Regions from separate parts of the Homo sapiens genome. Here region 1 is linked to region 2. Evidence: fine-mapped expression QTL. A gene starts in region 2. The other region holds a variant in brackets. All regions are shown on one strand. Distances are from middle to middle.

Region 1 (2,905 bases), 23 kb after region 2:
CCAGTGAGTGGCACTCCAGAGCCATGCCCCAGCCTCCCTTTCTGCAGCTTCTAGGGCCCAAAGTGGCATAAACTGCAGATGAGCAAAGGTCAAGAGGCTGCCATGCCCAGGGAGGAGGAAGGGGCCCTGGGGTCCTGAAGGGTACAGGGCTCCAATCGCTGCTCTATGGCCAGCTCTGGAATGGGACCTGAGTCGTTCTCACCTGAGATCCCTCTGTATCCCACCTTCCTGGGGCTGGATCCACTCTGGGCTCTGAGAAGCTGTGGTCAGATTCCGCAGAAGCAGGGTCCCTGGCTGGCAGGGATTCTTACTCAGAGCGTAGCACTACTGGGGGCAGAGCCCCAGCTGGTAGATAGAGTTGGAGGTCAGTTATTGATGGCTCCCGTAGGACCAGTGCCCCCAGTGTCTGGGTGTGTCCGAATGTAAACTGCTATCAGCCTGGCCTATAAAGGCAGTTTACCTGCTTGTAAAGGCAAATTTATCAAGACTTGTCTACTATGCCCGCTCCCCTGAGGCAACTGCTTAGGAAGCCATGTTTATTACCACGTGACCCTCCCCCGATTCATGTATTTGCTGACACAGAGGAAACCTGCAAACCTAACTTATACACAGGTGTCAGGGACTAATACTTCCAGGCATACATACTTGCATTCTAAGGCAGGGTATTTTTGTTTAGTCTTTTATAATGAAAATTTCTAAACTTTAAAAAAAAAAAGTGACAGAAGAACACTGTAATTTTTTTTTTTTTTTTTTTGAGATGGAGTCTCGCACTGTCACCCAGGCTGGGGGGCAATGCTGCGATCTTGGCTCACTGCAACATCCGCCTCCCAAGTTCAAGCAATTCTCCTGCCTCAGCCTCCCAAGAAGCTGGGATTACAGGCGCCCACCACCATGCCCGGATAATTTTTTGTATTTTTAGTAGAGACGAGGTTTCACTATGTTGCCCAGGCTGGTCTCAAATGCCTGACCTCATGATCCACCCGCCTCGGCCTCCCAAAGTGGTGGGATTACTGGAGTGAGCCACCGTGCCCAGCCTGTAATTTTTTTAAAATGGGGCCAGGCATGGTGGCTCACGCCTGTAATCCCAGCACTCTGGGAGGCCGAGGCGCGTGGATTGCTTGAGCTCAGGAGTTCAAGACCAGCCTGGGCAAAATGGTGAAATTCTCTCTCTACCAAAAAAAAAAATAATAATAATACAAAAAATTAGCTGCTTTGGGAGACCCAGGCGGGAAGATTGCTTGAGGCCAGTAGTTCAAGACCAGTCCGGGCAACACAGTGAGATCTTGTCTCCATTAAAAAATGTAAACAATGGGCCAGGCACGGTGGCTCATGCCTGTAATCCCAGCACTTTGGGAGGCTGAGGTGGACAGATGACTTGAGGTCAGGAGTTTGAGATCAGCCTGGCCAACATGGCAAAACCCTGTCTCTACTAAAAATACAAAAATTAGCCGGGCGTGGTGGCACACGTCTGTAGCCCCA[A/G]CTATTCAGGAGGCTGAGGGAGGAGAATCGCCTGGGCCCAGGAGGCGGAGGTTGCAGTGAGCCGAGATCATGCCACTGCACTCCAGCCTGGGTGACAGAGCAAGACCCCGTCTCAAAAAAAAAAAAAAAAAAAAAGTAAAAAATGAAAAGCAAGATTACTCAGATATGGTGGTGCACACCTGTCATCCTAGCTGCTTGGAAGGTGGGAAAATCACTTCAGCCCAGGAGTTCAAGGCTACAGTGAGCTACAATGGCAACACTGCACTTAAGCATGGGTGACAGAGCAAGACCCTGTCTCAAAAAAGGAAAAAGGCGAATGGATGACAGTTTAATGATGAAATTTTAGGCCCTCACTTAAGAAGATAAGGGAGGTGTTTGAGTGGCTGGAAACTAAGATGGCAGCCAGGAAAAGCCCAGGCTTTGGAGGAAGGCTGACAATCTGAGTTCAACTCAGCTTTGCCCTGCATTGGTTTTATAATCCTTGGCCAAGTTTCATAGCCTGTTTTCACATCTGCAGATTGGGCTTGTTGGGAAGATAAAATGAGATGATGCATGTAAACATTTAGCATGGCATCTGAAACAGAGTCCCTGTCAGTAGACATTCATTCCTGTCCTTTATTTACCTCCCCACTCTCCCTGCCCTCCTGGCGAGGCTCTGGTGGTCAATGCCTGGGCTTTCATCAGTGTGGCTCTCTTCCTGAGCAGGAGGAGGGGGGCCTCTAGGATGCATCTTGTTGACTCAGCTGTCACTTTAACAGTCTGTGGCCAGGAGGCATTATTATGGTAGTTCCCTGCCTCTTCTGTTTCCTATCTTCTGAAGGGTTTGAGAGCCCTTTCGGGAAAAGAAACTAGATGAGAAGAGTCACTGTGTTTTGTTCATTTATTTACTCACTCATTTAACAAAGATTTTATGAGCTCCCCTGGTAGGCCAAACATTATGCTCAGTGGTTATTCAAGAGCCACAGGATGGGCACGGTGGGTCACACCTGTGATCCCAGCACTTTGGGAGGCTGAGGCGAGAAGATTGCTTGAAGTCAGGAGTTCAAGACCAGCCTGATCAACATAGTGAGACCTTGTCTCTGTAAAAACTAAACAAAGGGCAGGCACGGTGGCTCACACCTGTAATCCCAACAGTTTGGGAGGCTGAGGTGGGTGGATCACCTGAGGTCAGGAGTTTCAGACCAGCCTGGTCAACATGGTGAAACCTCATCTCTGCTAAAAATACAAAAAGTTAGCCAGGCGTGGTGGTGGGTGCCTGTAATCCCAGCTACTTGGGAGGCTGAGGCAAGAGAATTGCTTGAACCCAGGAGACGGAGGTTGCAGTGAGCTGAGATCGTGCCATTGCACTCCAGCCTGGGCAACAAGAGCGAAACTCTGTCTCAAAAAAACCCCAAAAAATAACAACAACAACAATAACAACAAAAAA
Region 2 (2,905 bases):
AATTTGTAAACATAGAGCACTTAGAATACTATCCAGAAAAAAAAAATACTGTCTAGGACATAGTAAGCATTATACAGATGTTAGGAATTATTAATCCTAAAATATTGAAACACGAGAGAGGTGGAGCAGATGCTTTTGATGCTTCATAGACATCCCATGGCCATTTCTGATTTCAGCTGCGGCTGCAGGGGACAGATTTGTGCAGGTTGACAGCATTTCTCAAGGGCCCTCTGGGTCTCTCTGATTTTCTGCCCCAGAGCTTCCTCTTCTCAAAAGCTCACTCACCCCATGAGCAGGGCAGCCCAGAAGTACTGGGACATTAGTGGGCACTATTTTTTTTTCCTTTTTTTTTTTTTTTTTTGAGACAGTCTCGCTCTGTCGCCCAGACTGGAGTGCAGTGGTGCAATCTCAGCTCACTGCAACCTCCGCCTCCCGGGTTCCAGTGATTCTCCTGCCTCAGCCTCCCAAGTAGCTGGGACTACAGGTGTGTGCCACCACGCCCGGCTAATTTTTGTATTTTTAGTAGAGAAGGGGTTTCAGCATATTGGTCAGGCTGGTCTCGAACTTCTGACCACATGATCCGCCCGCCTCGGCCTCCCAAAGTGCTGAGATTACAGGCGTGAGCCACCGCGCCCGGCCTAGTAGACACTAATTTTCTTTCTTTCTTTCTTTTTTTGAGAAAGAGTCTTGCTCTGTCGCCCAGGATGGAGTGCAGTGGCGCGATCTCGGCTCAGTTGGGCACTAATTTTCATTTGATGAACGCCTCTCCTTCGTATATTGTTAAAACTACCACCATGATCCAGGGGGAGATAAAAGAAATCCTAAATCCAGCTTGATCAGTGTTTCACTCCCTGGCATCTTTATCACCACCTAAGGTAGCATGGACCTCTATACCATCTGCCTTAACCTTCTGATCCTCCTGCTTTTAGCCCACTAACTAGCACATGCTGAGAAGGGCATCAGCTACTTGAAAAGAGTCAATGGGCTTGAGTGGAAAAGAAAATAGAGACAGCAGGGTCATCGGTCACATTGGCAAGGGGGCATGAAAAGGGAGTGGAGAGGCTTTGAGATCTTACTTTTCTTTCGTTCTAGGCTCTTAGTGGAAGAATTAAATCAGCCTGCAGAAGAGACTGAAATGAGGCACCTCTTGTCACAGTCAAGGCAGAAGCGGAAACGGAGGCCGAGACTGCGCAGGCGCAGAGGAGGCTAGCGTTCCTTGCTGCCTCGCCCCGCGGCCTCTAGGAGACAGGGGCCACGGGGAGAGCACAGCCACCCGGCGCGAAGAGCCCTCTGTACCCCGCTTCCTCTTGAGGCCCTCGGACCGTCCAGGAAATGTCTGGGAGCCCGCCTGCGGAGGGCATAGCGCCGACCCTCGCTCCCCGCCCAGGACCCGAATGAACCTGGAGAGCGGATGCCAGCAGTGGCCGAGGCGCTAGGACAGGAAGGACCGCCAGACCTCTCAAGATCAGCCTTCCTCGCCACCGTTCTCACCTCTTTGTCCGCTGCCTTCTCCTCAATGCCTAGCAGCGCGTACAGGTCCATCTGTAAGAGCTCCTTGGTCACTGCCATGGTTCCGGCCTGACGGATTCGTACTACAACTCCCAAGAGTCTAAGCGCGCGTGAGGACTGCAGGCTCCGAGCGGCGCCTAGCCCTCTGGGAATTGTGTTCTGGGTCAGGCTTGACTGACTCTGAGGGAGGCCGGCAGTCGTGAATGAACTACGACTCCCAGCAGCCCCCGTTGCCGCCGCTGCCGTACGCTGGCTGCAGGAGAGCGTCCGGATTCCCTGCTCTAGGTCGCGGCGGGACAGTGCCAGTGGGCGTGTGGGGCGGGGCAGGGCAGGGAAGGGAAGGGCGGAGCTGGGGTGAGGGTCCAAGGGGCCCAGGACTTGGCCGGCGTGATCTCAGCTCTGCAGACCCTGCGGTGCTGGGAGCCACCATGGAGAGTAGGTGCTACGGCTGCGCTGTCAAGTTCACCCTCTTCAAGAAGGAGGCGAGTCTTCCCTCCCCGAGGGCTGCAGGGCCAGGGAGGAGAGGAGGGAAAAGCGCGGGACTTAACGTCCAAAGACTTGGTCTTACGGCTCCTTTCCAGCTGTGTGGTTTTGATGAAGTCATTGATCCTCAGTTTCCATTTCTGTAAAATGGGGCTAACATTCTCTCGCTTTCAGGGTTTATGTGAGGGTCCACTGAAGTGCTTTAGGTGAGAGTTCCCTATAAACTGTAAAGCGCGCTGCCGTCGTTTTTGCAAAGCTACTCTTTTCTGTCGGCCCAGTGTAGCATCTGGCGGTTTTCTTCTCTCCACCCTGCTCCTCCGAAGCGCGGTGTCCATCACACCAAGCCCGTTACTCCCTCTGCTCTGAAATCTTCCCCATCCCGCAGCCTGCCCTTCTCCAGGTCGCTGGAGTTAGATTACCACACTTCCTCCTGCTTCCGGGGCACCATGGTGAAGGCTGACTGTCCTGTCCCTATCACAGACCTGCCAGATTCCTCTGGTAAACTGCAGGTTCCCTCTGCCTCAGTTGTGGCCAGGGATTCTGACCAGGAGATGATGGGAACTAGATGGAGTAAATTAGTGTCACGCAGGAAGGCAGGACCGTGCAGCATTCACCAACCTGGATTTTGGAGTCAGCGTTCAAATCTGAGCTCTGCTGTCTTATTGAGGCGGTGACCTTGGTTTGGATAAGTTATGTAACCTCTCTGGCCCTCTCAAAATAAGGATAATCACGGTTGGCATCAAGATTAAGTAAAATAATGTGTGTAAATTGTAAGGAATAAATCACATGATGAATGTTAAGTACTGGGTTTAGTGCCTGGCACATAGTAAGTGCTTAATAAATGGAGGCTATTGTTAGCCCATCCTGAGCCAAGCCTCCCTCCATCTCTGCAAGAGCAGAGGAGGCATCGGCT

What was found.
Region 1: its variant is fine-mapped to the expression of ZFYVE19 in caudate (GTEx, PIP 0.91).

The regions. Positions count from the first base shown.
Region 1 is chr15:40,828,848-40,831,752 of GRCh38, forward strand. No RefSeq gene overlaps it. Among named protein-coding and RNA genes, the nearest start is that of PPP1R14D, 1.6 kb to the left of the region's middle. The variant A/G (reference allele first, on the strand shown) is at 1,480.
Region 2 is chr15:40,805,878-40,808,782 of GRCh38, forward strand. It overlaps ZFYVE19 (zinc finger FYVE-type containing 19), which reads left to right and starts at 1,212. Exons shown (of 11, transcript NM_001077268.2): 1 at 1,212-1,991. The coding sequence starts at 1,713. It overlaps DNAJC17 (DnaJ heat shock protein family (Hsp40) member C17), which reads right to left and starts at 1,596. Exons shown (of 11, transcript NM_018163.3): 1 at 1,492-1,596. The coding sequence starts at 1,569. RefSeq lists enhancers at 875-964, 1,425-1,474, 1,515-1,564, 2,195-2,244.